Linked DNA regions of Homo sapiens: region 2 is linked to region 1. Evidence: fine-mapped expression QTL. Tissue or cell type: whole blood. Region 1 holds a variant in brackets; the other region holds the start of a gene. All regions are shown on one strand. Distances are from middle to middle.

The links. PIP is the estimated chance that this variant, and not a neighbour inherited with it, causes the effect.
Region 2: it holds the start of CYLD, and the variant in region 1 is fine-mapped to the expression of CYLD in whole blood (TOPMed, PIP above 0.99).

The regions. Positions count from the first base shown.
Region 1 is chr16:50,804,938-50,813,040 of GRCh38, forward strand. It overlaps LINC02168 (long intergenic non-protein coding RNA 2168), which reads left to right and starts at 1,735. Exons shown (of 2, transcript NR_146573.1): 1 at 1,735-1,870; 2 at 2,481-2,692. RefSeq lists enhancers at 4,205-5,204, 5,031-5,140. The variant A/G (reference allele first, on the strand shown) is at 4,561.
Region 2 is chr16:50,738,587-50,746,689 of GRCh38, forward strand. CYLD (CYLD lysine 63 deubiquitinase) reads left to right here and starts at 3,500. Exons shown (of 19, transcript NM_001378743.1): 1 at 3,500-3,538; 2 at 4,176-4,255. It overlaps CYLD-AS1 (CYLD antisense RNA 1), which reads right to left and starts at 4,161. Exons shown (of 7, transcript NR_184279.1): 1 at 4,085-4,161; 2 at 2,742-2,818; 3 at 2,094-2,208. It overlaps MIR3181 (microRNA 3181), which reads left to right and starts at 3,719; the gene lies at 3,719-3,791. RefSeq lists a silencer at 3,315-3,914 and an enhancer at 4,155-4,254.

The DNA of each region.
Region 1 (8,103 bases):
GCATTTCCGCCATACAGATACGATAGACATAAAACCACGGTGGCAAACAGCAGCCCGTGAACCAAACCAGCTCAGCACCTGATTTTGTGAATCACATTTGATTGGAACACAGTCATGACCATTTATCTAAGTACAGGTTGAATATCCCTTATCTGAAATGTTTGAGACCAGAAGTGTTTCAGGTTTCAGATGTTTTTGGATTTGGGAATATTTGCAGTACCAGATGAGCAGCCCTAACCCAGAAATCCAAAATCCAAAATGCCCCAATGAGCATTTCCTTTGAGTGTCATGTTGGTGCTCAAGAAGTTTTGGATTTTGGAGCATTTCAGATATTTGGATTAGGGAGCATTTAAGATTTTTCAGATTAGAGATGCTCAGTCTATATTATCAATGCTTTTGTGCTACAATGGCTGAGTCAAATAGTTTTGACTGAACCCTTATGGCTCACGCAGTCATTAAATGGCCCTTCCCAGAAACAGTTTGCTTACCTTTGGCACAGAAAATGGTAAAATATAAAATAATTAGGAAGTAATGAGTTGCGAGTATTTGTTACCTTTATTTTAAGTATAATTTCATTTTAAGTTTATATAATTTGTAAGTTTATATACTTTGTTAGCTTAATAATTCAATAATAGATCCATCCAAGAACTGACTCGCAAAATTCCTGAAAATTTAATAATGGGCTCTTGTGAGCCATGGATGCCAGCTCCAGTTTACTTCTGCCATCATCTCAAACACACCTACAGGCACATATAGACTCCTGTGCGCTTCATTTTCTCCACAGCACTGATCCCCTGGCTGCATGGCTTATCGTGGGCTCCTCAGGACCTCCCCTAGTCCCTTTAATTGTCTTTCCTTACCACCTTGATCAGTGCCTGGCACAAACCTCCCGCCTCAGCCTCCTCAGTAGTTGGGACTGCAGGTGCACACCACCATGCCCAGCTGGCTTTTTACATTTTTGTAGAGAGGGGGCTCTCGCTATGTTGTCCAGGCTGTTTCAGCCTTTTATTCGTGGAAGCCCCACTGTCTATTGTCAGTGTGCTCAGAATTAGATTACTGTCCCCATTTCTTTTGAGAAAGCACAAGACGTCTCAGTCTCTAGTTCCCCAAATAATGCTTCCTCTCAGAAGTGGAGACATCGTAGGACTCCCCTGCTAGGGCTTTGATGAACTTTGAATGAAACCATGCACGGAAAGTGCTTATCACAGTGCCTGGCACTCCGTAGCCCCTGAGTAAACAGCAGCCACCAGTGGCAGCAGCAGCAGCATTAGTACTAATATCGTAAACATGAACTTGAGAGACAGGGTGCAAGTCTAATCAGCAGTTCTCTTTCTGCCTCTCATCTCCCTCCACGATCCTATTTTAAGCCACACTCTTTATCCTTTAGATGGTTTTATGAGATTGAGATTTTTCTCAGGCATCTTGTCCCTGAGTGCAGCAGCGCCATCTTGTGGTCATTACTGGTTATGGCGCTGTCCTAGATCTAAGCTCCCAAACTCCGAGCCGCAGCCAGAACCCAGGCTTGGGAGGCAGCAGGGATTTTGAAAGCCAATGTGGCAGTCGGGCCAACACACCAGATTACACACTACACCCTAAGAGGGTTTAAGTTTCCTCTGCGTCATTTCGGGACAGCTGCTTAGTGTTGACCATTTCTGTTTGTGGCTGTCCTCTCTCATAATGGGCTCTGTCTTGCCCTTTCTCTGCATCTGCTGCTCCCTCTGTCTTGAGCTTTCAGGCACCGTCTACAAACGGGGTTTAAAATGAGCTAGCGCCATCTACTGGGCGAATGCCGTAAGGTCGGTTGTGAGGTCCCGGAATCTGCAAAGGAATGAATGAATTACAAATCTGTGGCTTTATGGGGGGAATGTCGGTACGTAATAGGATTCTGATGTCACCTCCCTTTATTTGCGACCCTTTCTCAGTGTAAGCCTCATATCTACTGTGTTAACTTTAGTACAGGTTACTTTGTCAGGATCCCAATGTGAAAATCAACCACACTGTCTTCAGTGCTTCCCAGAGAGGGGTCTTTGGACCAACCTGCGTCGTAGTCATCCAGGGACATTTAAGAATGCAGGCTCCGGCTGGGCGTGGTGGCTCTCACCTGTAATTCCAGCGCTTTGAGAGGCTGAGGCGGGCAGGGCTTGAGGCCAGGACTTTAAGACCAGCCTGGGCAACACAGCAAGACCTTGTCTCTACAAAAATACAATAATAACAATAAAAATTAGACAGGTGTAATGATGCACTTCTGTAGTCCTAGCTACTTGGGAGGCTGAGGCTTGAGGATCACTTGAGCCCAGGAGTTGGAGGCTGTAGTGAGCTATGATCACACCACTGCACTTCACCCTGGGCGACAGAGCAAGACTCTGTCTCTAAAAAAGAGAATTTGGTCTTGGAGGCCCTGTGCAAAATCTACAGCATCAAGCTCTCAGGGTAGGGCCCTGGAATGTGCATTTTGAACACTTCCCCCTTTTCCCACCAAGAGAATCGGGCACACGCTGAAGTGTGAGAACCACTGCCATTATGGAGAAGAGGCTTCCCGCCCCCTCACCTGCCACTCTAGAAATCCAGAGAAGAGATTCCACTTGGATTAAGACTTGCATAAGTGGGGAGTTGAGTCCAGTCTCTTTCCCCCACTGCAATACCCTGTTGCGGTGACATGTAATAATAATAAAAAGACTTGCATGAACTCCTTTCTGTGCAAATGAGAGCAAGCATCTCTGACAAAACCACAGTGCCCCTGTCGCTCATTTTGTGTGTGGTTTCAGTGATAACAGACCCAAAGTCCTGGGACCAGCATCTGGCACACCATGGGGGCTCAAATGGGTCACTACTGCTGCTGTTACCTGTGTGAGGCCGGCTGGAGGCCTCCTCAGCATTCCTCACCCCCTCCCATCCACCTCTGCTTGGGAGGTGGGGGAAAATGGTTTATACTTTCATATCAAGGCTCGGCCTGCCACCTCGGGCCCTTCTCCCAGAGCAGGGCTCACTTCAAGCAAAGCACACAGCCATGTTGGAAAGATTCCAGTACTGAGGTCACCCCCTTCCTGGGTGGCACCTCTCTGAGCCTCAGTTTTCCCATTCCTAATACAGAGAATTGTATTAGAGTCTGTGCTGTCCCTTCCAGCTCTGACGTTCAGGGTGGCTCAGTGCTTTGGAAGCCCCTTCCCCATGTGGCACTTCCATGGTGTCTGGGTCTGGTGTGTGCAGAGACCCCCCCCCTCAGAATGCTGATTTCTCTTGCTTTGGTTCTTTCTCTGCCTGCTACCCCTAACCCATTTTGCACAAATTGTGAGCCATGTAGGTGCCCGATACACGAGTGCTTGGTTTTCAAAAGCCTTCATATTGTGCATACCTCATCCCCAGCAATTCTGTTGCTGGGAAATTTTTCTAAGGCAATCATGATCGCAGATGTGCCCAAGATTAGCCATCAGACTCCGAGCAGCACTGTTTATAATGCTGGCCAAACCTGAAAAAGTTAAATGTGCAGGACTGTAATAAATTATGGTACAGCTAGACTATACCATAACCATTAACCATGTGCAGTCATTAATGATTCTTCTGGAATGTAATTTTTTTAAGGACATGAGCAAAAATTCACACTATATTAGGTGAAAAAAGTGGATTATTAAAAACTTATGTATGATAATAGATCTAATTTTGTGTATACAAAAATTTGTGGCTGGGCATGATGGTTCATGCCTGTAATCCCAGCACTTTGGGAGGCTGAGGTGGGCGGATCACCTGGGGTCAGGAGTTTGAGACCAGCCTGACCAATATGGTGAAACCCCATCTCTACTAAAAATAAAAAAATTAGCCGGGCTGTGGTGGCATGCCGGTAATCCCAGCTACTCAGGAGGCTGAGGCAGGAGAATTGCTTGAATGCAGAAGGCAGATGTTGCAGTGAGCCGAGATCGCGCCACTGGACTCCAGCCTGGGTGGTGACAGAGGGAGACCCTGTCTCAAAAAAAAAAAAAAAAAAAAAAATATTGTGCATGTACTGAAAAATTTGCTTGCAGGGAATACATTGATTCCTGAGATGACAGTGACTGCGGATGACTTTCATGTTTGTGTTTTTCTCTTGTCGGTATTATCTAAATTAAAATCCGTGGTTGACTGAATGGCAGGATGTGCAGGGAGGGTTGTCAGGAAGGGGCCATTTATCAGAAGGAGAGAACAGACACCAGAAAGGGCATGGGCTGTCAATCAAATACCGTTGAGGTGTTTGGGAGTGTGGAGTGGTCACCTCTGAGGCCATTTGCATGATAAAGACCCATGTGAACTTCCACCAGTTTTGAAAAGAGACCTGGCCATCCTGGGAAGAAAAAGACTGTCTGGAAGGGCAGTGGCTGGGCCCCTGGAGATCAGAGGCTTTTATGACTCCCTGGAGGGAATGCATTGCAGCTGGCATGGAGGGTGAGGCTGCCAAGAGCTCACCACATCAAAGGGGTGGGCATGGCAGTGGGGGGCTCTGGGGTGCACCAATGGTTTCGATCAAAACAGGAGCCATGCCCAGACCAGGAGGAGCGTTCTGTGTGGTGAGGGTCCTGTAGAGGATAGCAT[A/G]CGGAATAAACGTCAGGATCACACTGGGGAGACTGACGCAGCTGAGCCAGGAGGCAAGGAAGAAAGAGGAAGACTGTATTCTGTCCAGTTGGTATAAAAATCAAACTCAGCCAGCATCGCCCTCTGCTTTATGTTCAACTCTCCAGGTAGCCACCTAGAAAACCTTTTCACACCCATTGTCCCCACCCTCTGAGTAGACAGAATGGAGAGTTTTATTTCACAGCTGGAGAAACTAGGGCTAAAGGAGCTCAATGATCTCACTGGTGTTACTTCCTAACCAGACCTGTGCTGTGGGACTGTCCCGCAGGACGAAAGCAGCAGCTAGGCGTGACCATGGGGAGCCCCCTTGCCCCATAGGTAAATGCCGTCACCCTTTCCCAGCCTCAGATGATAGGGGTTCTGGGACAGAGAGACCCTGAACATAGAGTGCTGTGGGGAGTGGCGCATGCCTGGAACATGCTGTGTGGACAGAGGAGGTGGGAGAGATGAGGTGGTTTGGGCTAAGTAGAAGAGCAACTGTGGGAGGGACTGCATTCTGGAAACCCCAGAGCAGGGGATGAGGAAGAAATTGATCAAGCAATCCTCCCAGCTCGACCTCCCAAAGTCCTAGGATTACAAGCTTGAGCCACTGTGCCTGGCCTACCTGGATTGTGGTGTGTGTATCTGCTCTCTGGGCCTCAGTTTCCCCATTTGGTGAACATTGGGCCCTGGGTTAGGTGCTTCCTATATATGCTCCCTTATTCTTGTGAGAACTTCATCCCTAATTATCTGATGAGAAAGCTGAGGGTCAGGCAGAGCCAGTGGGACTTGAAGTCAGGGCCACCTGCCTCTAGTAGCCTGGCATTGACTCTAAAAATGACGAGTGGGAGGAGGGCAGGTTGGTCCAAGATGATTCCCTCAGCTCCTGCCTGCTTCTGCGGTCTCTCTGGAGATGCCTGCAAGGCTCTGCTGGGCCCCAGCACTGTCCCCTCAGCTAGGGAGCAGTTGGCAGGGTTCCCACTGTTCAGTCAGGTAAGGGCCTGCTGCTCTTCAGTGTGGCCTGTGTTTGGTGCCCATCCTATAGCCCAGAGTGCCAAGAGAGCATGCCATCTACCCTGCCTGGGAGGGCGGCCTTGTGCTTAGCTTGAGTTTTATTTCCTCCAGCCCCTGGTAGCCCCTTCGCCCCTGCCAGCCTATCTGCTGTGGGTGTGGGCTCCAGCTCTGTCATATTCTGTCCGTGTCCAGGGCTATGCACAGAGCCACAGTGCTGGCGAGGAGGGGCGCTGCCAGGGGTGGCCCAGAATCTAGACCCTGAATGGCACTGGGGAAGCATGGGCTGCTCCCTTTTCCTTTCTCTCTTTGTTACTGAGATGCACCTTGTTATCGTAAAGGGCACTGGGCCCCTGTATAGGGCTCAAGGAAATTTACATTTCCACACACTCTTGCAGCCATACATTAGGTCAACCTGGGGACCTTTCCCAGCACCTCCAAGGCTCCTTCTGCTCCCCCAAGTCAAGTTACCTCCCTGCACCAGTGATTACCACTATTTTGACTTCTGTCACTGTAGATCCCTGTTGCCAGGTTTTGAACTTATGTAAAGGGAGTCATAGATCGTGCACACTTCAGGTAGTGTCTGATGTCATGCTGTGTGCATCCTTCAGACTGTCTCTGTTGTGTATGTCAGTGATTCTACTTCATAGCTATGTGATGCTCTCTTACGTAAATATACAATCGTTTATTTATGGTTCTCATACTGATGGAAAGGGGCATTGCTGACAGTTTGGGGCTACTACACATGACCCTACTGTGATCCTTCTTGAATTGGTGGATTTTAGCTTTAGGAGAGACAGCTGCAGACTTTTCCAAAGTTTACACTCCTTCCTTCTTTCATTATTATTTTTTAACCAACTCCACTGAGGTGTAATTTACATACAGTAACATACACATATTTTAAGTAAGCAGTTAGATGAGTTTTGACACATTCATGAATTTATTTTTTATGAGACCAGGATCTCACTATGTTGCCCAAGCTAGTCTCGAACTCCTGGGCTCAAGCGATCCTCCTGCCTCAGCCTCCCAAGTATCTGGGACTACAGGCATGCACCACCATGCCCAGCCAATTTTAAAAATTTTTCGTAGAGAAGGTGATCTTGTTATGTTGCCCAGGCTGGTCTTGAATTCCTGACCTCAAGTGATCCTCCTGCCTGGGCATCCGGAAGCTCTATTACAGGCATGAGCCACCACTCTGGGATCTGACAAACTTTCTGTAGTGTTGAAGTTCAGTGACTTGGAGTAGTCACCTCCAGCTCAAGGTGCATGTGCCTGTGTGTTTTCTCCTTTTTTTGATAAAACCCAGGCTCAGCACAGGGTCGAGAAAAAGACTGAAAGTCAGCCCAGAAAGCAGTGTAGAAAGTAGAAAGCTAGTCTGGACTACCATTAGCATCAAGGACCTCAGTCACTGGAGCCATTGAGATGGGTCCACCCCTTCTCCCTCTCTTTCTCTCTCTCTCTTTTTCTTTCTTTAATTCATTAGCAAGAGGGTCTGTCTCACTATGTTGCCCAGGCTGGAAAACCTGGGCTCAAGCAACCCTCCCATCTCAGCCTCCCAGTCCCAGCTCAATCTTTCTTTTTAAAGTTGGAGAATTTTCTAAAGTTCTCCAACTTTAAAGGCTGCTGCCTAGGGAGGCAGGGCTGCACCCACGGGCAGAGTTAGAGGCAGAGCTGGAACAGAACCCCAGCATGGGAAGTCCGTGTTCACGGGGGGCCATTTCACCCTGGGACATTGTAGGGCAGCTCGAGGCTCTGACTAGGGAGGCCCAGCGCCTGGGGCTGGCGCTTGGTCCGAGCTCTGCAGGCTTTCCTGGGTGGAGAGGAGCCTCTTCCTGCCATGCACACCAGGCCTTCCTTAAGTGACTCAAACACCAATCTTCCTTGGGCTTCCTGAACTGTGAGGATTCCACAGTCTGGCAGGGCTGGTGGCCTCAGCCGTACACTCTGCAGCCAAGAGGGCTCTAGCTCCTGATTCCACCCTGTCCCTCAGCGGCTCCCCAGTGCTCTTCCAGGCCTTAGGCCTGCACCATCCCCACCTCTCCCTCCTCACCAACCTGCCACCTCCTGCCTCAGGTGGACACACTCAGGAGGAAGTCAAGCCTGTCCCTATACAAAAGCCATATTCCCAGGCACTTGCCTGAGTAGAGACGAAGTCTCAGCTCCTTCTACGTGAGCCCGAGGTGCCCACGGTCCCCACACCCCCTCCAGGAGTCCTTGCATTTGCGCAATGCTTTATACTCATCTGTCAGCTCGGCAGTGGGTCCCCCAGAGGGTGAAAACCACATTGTCCCTGTCTCATCAGCAACCAGAACAGGGGGCACCAACTGTGGCCTCCTCCCATATTTGTCGGGAGACTGAATGATTCTCAGGAAGCTGCGCGGCCACCGGCCATTTCACATGGGCATTTCCAAGCTGGGTGCTTTTTGCACCATGCTATTTTGGGCGGGAAGACTTTTCCAGTCCCTTTCTCCTTGGCATGCCACAGAAGAATTTCCTTCACCCACATCTGGATCA
Region 2 (8,103 bases), 66 kb before region 1:
TAGCAGGCTACCTGGAGTTCACCGTCCTCCGTGGGGAAAGCTCCATTCAATTCAATAGCTTTATGTTAGGGTCCCGCTGTGTGCAATGAGAGAACTACATAAGACAGCTTAGAATCAGTGTTAGGTCAGGCACAGTGGCTCATGCCTGTAATCCCAGCACTTTGGGAGGCAAAAGCAGGAGGATCACTTGAAGCCAGGAGTTCAAGACCAGCCTGGGCAACATGGTGAGACCCTCATCTCTACTCAAAAGAGAAAAGTTAGCTGGGCATGGTGGTGCGTACCTGTAGTCTCAGCTGCTCAGGAGACTGAGGTGGGAGGATCACTTGAGCCCAGGAGACGGGGGCTGCAGTGAGCTATGATTGTGCCACTGTACTCCAGCCTAGGCAACAGAGTGAGACCCCATCTCAAACAAAAAACAAAAAACAAAAAAAGAACCAGTGTTATGTTCCCTGCAAAACCCTTCACAACTTCCCATTGCTCTTGGGATGGAGAACAACCCCTGTCCTTGGCTCCCAAGGCTCTTTTGTGCCTTCATTGTCTGCGCTCTGCCTCTTCCAGTTTCTTCAACAGGTCATGCACTTTCCTGTTTCCTATTTCTGGAGTGTTCCCCCTCACTCCTGCCTGCCAGTTATCTTTCCCATCTCATCTCAAAGGTGACTTCCTCAAACAGGCCTTCCCTGAGTGGCCAACCTCCCTTTAGGCATGCTCAGAGAGATTCTTCTTCTGAGGCTTACCACAGCCATAATTAAGTAAGTGATCATCTAATGAGTATTTTAGTTTGCCTTTTTTTTTTTTTTTTTTTTTGCCAGAGGGAGTGTGGCATCTCTCTTGTACACTGCTATGTTTCCTGGAACCTGCTCAGTAACACAACCGCTAGTTCCATGAACCCAGGACCAGGCTGGATGGAAGAGGCTGTGGGGTGGTGGATTGAGAGAGGTCATTAGTGAGGGCTGGAGCCCTCTGTGAAGACATGTCTGTAAAGGACTTTGACTAGGTCCTCCATGAAGGGAGGATTTGGAAGGCAGAGATGATGAGCATTTCAGTTGGGGAATCCATTTTAACAGAGGTGGAAAGAGTCTTGGCTTGGAATCAGGGTCTCGGCCCATCTCCTGAGTGACAGGGGCTTGTAATTTACTGTCTTTGGGCCTTCATCTACTACCTGTAAAATGAGAGGCTGGTTCACCAAGGACTGCAAATAATAGCACCATGACACTATCTCCCCATCTTATCCCCTGGCAGATATCTCTCTTCCCGGTGAGCCTGAATATAAGTTCAGAATTAGCTTTAACGCAATGTTCTAAGCAGCCATTCCCAATTGATAGGAAATGATAATTGAGATAAGCCCCATTTGTCAGGCTTGACTTGGATGAAGATCCCTTAGATGAAGTCAGGCCCCGGCACTGATTCAGTGAACGTATGACAGGACAGAGCCTGGGGACGAAAGCCCTATGGAAGTAGAGACCTCAGCAGCACCAAACACCATCAACAGAAAGGACACAAAAATAGGCCGGGCACATTGGCTCATGCCTGTAATCCCAGCACTTTGGGAGGCTGACGCAGGCAGATCACTTGAGGTCAGGAGTTTGAGACCAGCCTGGTCAATATGGTGAAACCTTGTCTCTACTAAAAATACAAAAATTAGCTGGGTGTGGTGGCAGGCACCTGTAATCCCAGCTACTTGGGAGGCTGAGGCAGGAGAATTGCTTGAACCTGGGAGGCGGAGGTTGCAGTGAGCTGAGATCGCACCATTGCACTCCAGCCTAGGCAACAGAGCAAGACTCTGTCTCAAAACAAAGAAACAAACAAACAAACACCCCAGCAACAACAACAACAAAAACAAAAAGAAGGGACATGAAAATATTCTAGTCCAGAGTGGCAAACTCAGATGCCTTAAGGGACCAGTGGATGTAGATCGTGCAGATAAGAGAAGTGGTCCCAGTGGTAACATGAGAATGTTTGCCTTGCCTAAAAGGACCCCAAATCTCTCTCCTTCACATTCTTTTCTCCTTCCTCCTTATCGTATGGGTTAGGCAAAAACAAATTTCAGCTGAAATTTTCTTCCAGACAGTTGGACTGTGACCTCTGAGTCCTACCAGCTTTGTTGGAGAATCCAGATGTAGATGAGAACGGTGTTGCCTAAGGCCACACTTCAAGCCAGGCCCGTTGATTTCCAACTTATGGCTTCCTACAGCAGTGTGGTCATGAAGCCTGGAAAACAGGAAGATAGGAGTGACAAAAGAGGGACAGGAGTAGAATGAGGCTTAGGTTTTCAAAAGATGCTCATTTCATTTTGGATGACTATGGCAAGGAAGAGTGGTGGCCTGTCTACTGCTACTGTTAGTCATCACTCATGTGACTGTTTTTATGTATTCATTGGTTTAAATTCCCTGGATCTCCAGAAACATGTCACTTTCCACTGGGGGAAATTTGTGTCATGATTAAAAACACACACACACACACACACACACACACACACACCCCTCCTCCTTTCTCAGTGTTAATCACCTTCTCCTATAATTAGCACTTAAAATGTCAAAGGAGAAGAAATTAATTAACAGGAGTATCCAGTGCAGCAAGGCTCTAGGACTGATTATAAAAAGCACTTCCTTAAATATTTTGAGTGCTTTTGGGAATCAGAAGCCTCCCTTCTAATTGAAAGATCCTTAACTACACCCTAAGTCCTGGCTGGTGGCCAGGGGTGCGGGGCTGAGTGAGGCGGCGTGTGGAAATCCCTTCTTCACCATCCTTGGGAAAATTCCCTCCAAACTGGGATAGGTGGCAACAGAGGTTCGGAAACAGCAAGCGTCCCAGGCTGAATCTGCGGAGGAGGAAGAGATGAACCTTTCCTGAGCTGGTACTGCGTGCCAGGAACTTTAGCTCGGTATTTTGCCACAATCCTGTAAGACAACCGATACTATGATCTCCATTTTACAGATGAGGACATTGAGGCTCAGCGTGGTTGTGACTTCCTCAGGTCACGCAGCCACTGAATGAAAGCGCCAAAGATTCAAACTGAGGTCTGATTCTAAAGCTTTGCTCTCTCACGGCATCCTGGAATCCTATTTCAACCTTCATCTGGACTCTTAACCCAGCCCAAACCTAAGCGTCTACAGTTTTGACAGCTGAGGCGGGAGCACGGGAGGCGGAGCTGGTGGCAGCGCAGCGCCCCGCCCCGGCTCCAGCATCAGCCAATGGTGACGCGGCACCCACAGCCTTTCGCCCAATCAGCTTGAGCTTCCCGCCTCCATCCGCCGCTCTTCTCTGCCCCGCCCCTTCGCTTTCCCTTTGGTTCCACCGAGCTTGACAGAGCGGAAAGTCCCTTCGGCCGGCGCCGGGCTGGCAGCCATTGGAGGAAGGTCTGTCACAGGGAGGCCCAATCACGGCCCGCTCAGGAGCGCAGCTCGGCCTACGATTGGCTAGCGCGGCGGCTGCCCCCTCCGCCCCCGCTCCCTCCCTCTTCCCTGTGCGGTTCGGAGGCGGGGCAGGTGGGGGCGGGCCCAGGTAGCAGGTTTGGCTGCGCGGGGGCCGCGCGTCGGAGGTAAATACTAGGGCGGTGGGTGTGGGGAGCCGGGGCCGGCCCGGGACGCGGGCTGGGGAGCCGGGGCGAGGGGCGACGCCCCGCCGCCCGAGGTTAGTGAATGAGCGGGCGGCTGGCGGCCGGCGGGCGGCCGGATCCCCTCGGCGCAGCCGCCTGGCCTCAGGGCGTCCGGAGCCGCCGCGGCGACCATCGGGCCCTCGGCGCCGGCCCGTTAGTTGCCCGGGCCCGAGCCGGCCGGGCCCGCGGGTTGCCGAGCCCGCTGACGTCAGCCCGGGTTTCCCCCCCCCACCGGGGCTTCCCCATCCCCCGAGGCTTCCCGGGAGGGCTGCGAGTCCGGGGAGCGTGCGGGGTCGCCACCATCGGGACCCCCAGAGGAGAGAGGACTTGGGGCGGGAGCCGCGCGGGACGCTGTCCCCCTCCCGCCCCCCACCCCATTTACAGATTGGGAGACTGAGGCACAGGCCGCTGGCGGGCCCCGACGGCCACGGTTGGCCTCAGGAGCCCGGGGCTGTGATTCCTACCGACCGCGCCGCGGGGCGTACGTACCGATCGATTTTGCGGGTGTTGGTGGCTCCCGTCCAGGAATGGCAGTCGGGGTTCTGGCCTTGTTAATGGCGTGTTCTGCTTTTTCTTTCAGTTTCCCCCTTTCTAGGGTGAGGATGGTTCTACACAGCCACCCGGAGTTCCTTAGTTGAAAGGTGCGCCCTGCTGTGACAGGTATTCTTTCTTTATGTTTTTCTTTCATGTTAACAATCGAGGGGGGTGGGGGGCGAATGGGGGGCGGGGGCGAAGTCATGAAATCTTCAGGAGATGGTGTTGAGTTTGGTACTCAGCTGGGTCAGCTGCCGGTTATTCATGTACTTGGCATCGTTTCTCTTCCACCCCTTGGCATTTGAATGTTTTAGGATAGTTGTCATCTTCCAGCCACCAAGCCTGTGGCCTTGCAGTCTCCCAGCCCCCATCATCCCTGCCACCTTCTTCTCCTCAATTTTTCCTGGAAAGTTTTATCCTTAGCTCAGCTAAGGAGCATGCCTACCTTGCTTTTGAATTCGGGCTAATTAGGGATCTTAATAAGATTGTTCATTTTGCAATCATTGGCTCTCAGAGAAGCACCCAGGCCTTGAGAGGGTGTTCGTTTGATTGTTGGCTTTCTACACACCCCCTCACGCCCCAAGTAGACTGAATGGCCTTAAGAATTTAGCCTCCCATTCCCCACTGAGCAGTAGGTGGATTTGAACTAGAACAGTATTAGGAGAAAATGATTTGCTGGAAATTCTTATTGAAGTAACACCCAGAACATTCTCTAATATTCTGCTGCAAAATTGTATAGTATTCTTGCAAATAAACCTTCCTCTGGGTGGTAACTTTTGTGAGAAGCAGATAAGGCTTGTTATATAAAGCACAACTAACATTAAGCAGCAATGATTTTTATAGTCTGGCACACCTAAACTGTGGTTTTGTTTGATTTAAGGAAGTCTCCAACACAGGGAGAGAGAAAGGAATAGTTATGTTGTTTATCAAACTATTAGTATTTTGTTCCTGATTTTCACACTATGATTTAAATTAGTTTTTTTTTCATTGGTTGTACAGAATTTATAAGCATCATACATGCTAGTTGAGGCTGTAGGAAGCTAGTATCAAATAAACCTCAAAACAACTTGGTTTCGTAATTGTGAAATTTTCCGTATTTGTTTCTTCTTATATGTATAACAATGAAGTGGTTTAGCATGATTTCATTTTATCTAGAGAATTACTGAAGTTTTAGGCAAAATTCATTAAATACTCCCAATTCCTGAGTCTTTTTCTCTTCTCTTTCTCTTGGTTTAATCCCTTAAACAGGAGGAGGAAATGCAATTTTGTTTTCACTGTTACCACTTGAGTCTTTCATTCATTTCTCTGTATTCAGTGCCTAGCATATGCCAGGCTCTCGTGTGGGCACTGGATAATATAAAAATGAAGGACTTGGGGAATTCACAGTTTGGCAGTGGAGTGGCTAGGTTTAACACTAGAGAGGCAGCAGTATTCCTTGTTCCAGTGGGAATATGCAGATGTGAGAGGCTCTTCTTTTCTTTTTTTTTTTTAACCTTATAAATCCCACTTGTATTAGGGACTGTGTACTTGTGACACAAATTAGTCATTGAGGAAAATTAAAACGGACTCAGTCTTTTTTCTGGCCACGGAATCTCTGTATCTCTATTCTTTAGCTGTTTAGAAATATAACAACTTTGTCTTTTAGTGAGAGATGTTCTCTTTTAAAAGGATGATCATTCTAGCTATCCAGAAGCTTTTGGAAAAAGGCCCACATGTCTTCTTTCTTTGGTGTTCAAGCTGACCTTCCTACCTCTTTGCCATTTATAATTAGGGGCAGAATTAAGTATTGTAAGTTTTATTCTAATTTAAATAGCTTCCTGTGGTTTTTAGAACAAGCAGGATATCTTTGGAGATGCAAAAAGCTCTTGAATTGGATCTGTCTTTGTGAGATCCTTATGAACAATATAACCTGATAACTTGAGAATCAGAAAAACACTGCATCTTCTGGATAAGTTAACCATTGTTAGTTTTCTGTAGCTACTGATGTTCATTTGTACTATATGTTGCCTTTCAGAATGTGGTAATTGTAATCTTTAACATTTTCATGTAAAACATATTTCCTGATCATCTTTCCATTGTCTTCATGGAAAATTGATAAATATTTGTGCCTTCCAACTCTCGTCTTGGTTGAATGACTTCATCTTAATACAAGTAAGTTCCCCTTTACTCAGAATCCAGACCATCAACAAGCTCAGATAACCAGAAATGTTTTCAAATCTATGTGAACCTGAACTGTTCTCCTTCATCAGCGTCCTTAAAGGAAAGGCCTTCTGTTCAACATGGCTTTAGGGTTAAACATATTATTGTGTTTCAACTCGTTGGTAATTTTCATTCAGTATTTATTACCAAGATATTCATAATCACACAGTTATCCAGCCTGAAGTAAGATAGTATTTAGATGAGTCATTTGTGATATACTCACTCAAAGTGATTCAACCTGCAAAATAATAAGAGAATACAAGTGAAAATTTCTCCCTTCACACTGACCCCTCACCCCCACCTGCCCTACGGTGACTTTGAATTTAGCTGTGCTTCTTTTTCCTTCAGTTGTCTTACTGTTCCCTAGGCCTTTACTTAAAGGCAGAAGCTGAGTGAATGTGGATTGATGTTGGGTTTTTTTTTGTGTGTGTTCTCTCTTTCCTCTTTGTTTTTTTTTTTTTTTTTTTTTTTGAGACCAGGTCTTGCTCTGTCACCCAGGCTGGAGTACAGTGGTGTGATCATAGCTCTCTTCAGCCTGGACCTCCTGGGCTCTAGCGATCTTCCCATCCTCCAGAGTAGCTGGGACCCTGAGTAGCTGGGCCCACAGGCAGACACCACCACACCCGGCTAATTTTCTTTTCTTTTTTTTTCTTCCTTTTGGGACAGGCTCTCATTCTGTCACCCAGGCAGGAGTGCGGTAGTGCTATCACAGCTCACTAAAGCCTTGAACTCCAGGGCTTAGGGGATCCTCCCACTTCAGCCTCCAAAGTGCTGGGATTACAGGAGTGAGCCACTGTGCCTAGCCTAGATGATGTAGTTTTCAGTATCTAACTCTGTACTGAAAGCGTAAAAAATACCAAACTAACAAACCAACCTTCTTGATGATAAATAACTCATTTACAATGTGATTTAGATCTTTCCCTTCATATTGTGTTGAGTCAGTTTTTACTGCTTGGGGTACCTAAGACTTTAACTATTTAACTACTATGCACATCCCAGTGAAAGTAGACTGTTGGTGTTATATTCACTTCTACAGTGGGGAGAAATGTATGTTAGCATATTTTTATTGCAATACTGGTATTTTGAGTACATAAAATAAATATATATATATAATGGAGTGTGTATATATGTGAGAGAGTGTGTGACAGGGTCTTGCTTTTTCACCCAGGCTGAAGTGCGGTGGCGTGATCATGGCTTGCTGCAGTCCCTCCCTCCAGGGCTCAAGCCATCCTCCCACCTCAGCCTCACAAGTAGCTGGGACTACAGGCACATGCCATCACACCTGGCTAACTTTTGTACTTTTTGTAGAAATGAGGTTTCACTGTGTTGCACAGGCTGGTCTCAAACTCCTGGGCTCAAGCTGTCCACTCACCTTGGCTTCCCAAAGTGTTGGGATTACAGGCGTGAGTCACTGTGCCTGGCCGAGAATATTAGTGATCATTCAGTTGATTGCCTTGTATATCTCTAGACTCGAGCCGTAAAGTTTCCCATTCAACTTTCTCTATCAGTTGCAGTGAAGAGAATCAATTTTTAATAAGAGAGTTTCAAACTTGTTCTTAATATATTCTTTCTGAAAGAGGAAAGGCTGTATCCTTTATTTTTGGATAATGCTTTTGAAATATTTGATAACTTGTGCTTGACTATTTTAGTTGTCTAACATGACCCATCCTATTGCTAAGTCTAAGCTCATTTCCACTTGTGCTAATGAAAGTTAGGAAAAAAGTTACCACTCCTTGTAGAGTTCACTTTAAAATATGGTACTTGAAAGCTATAGT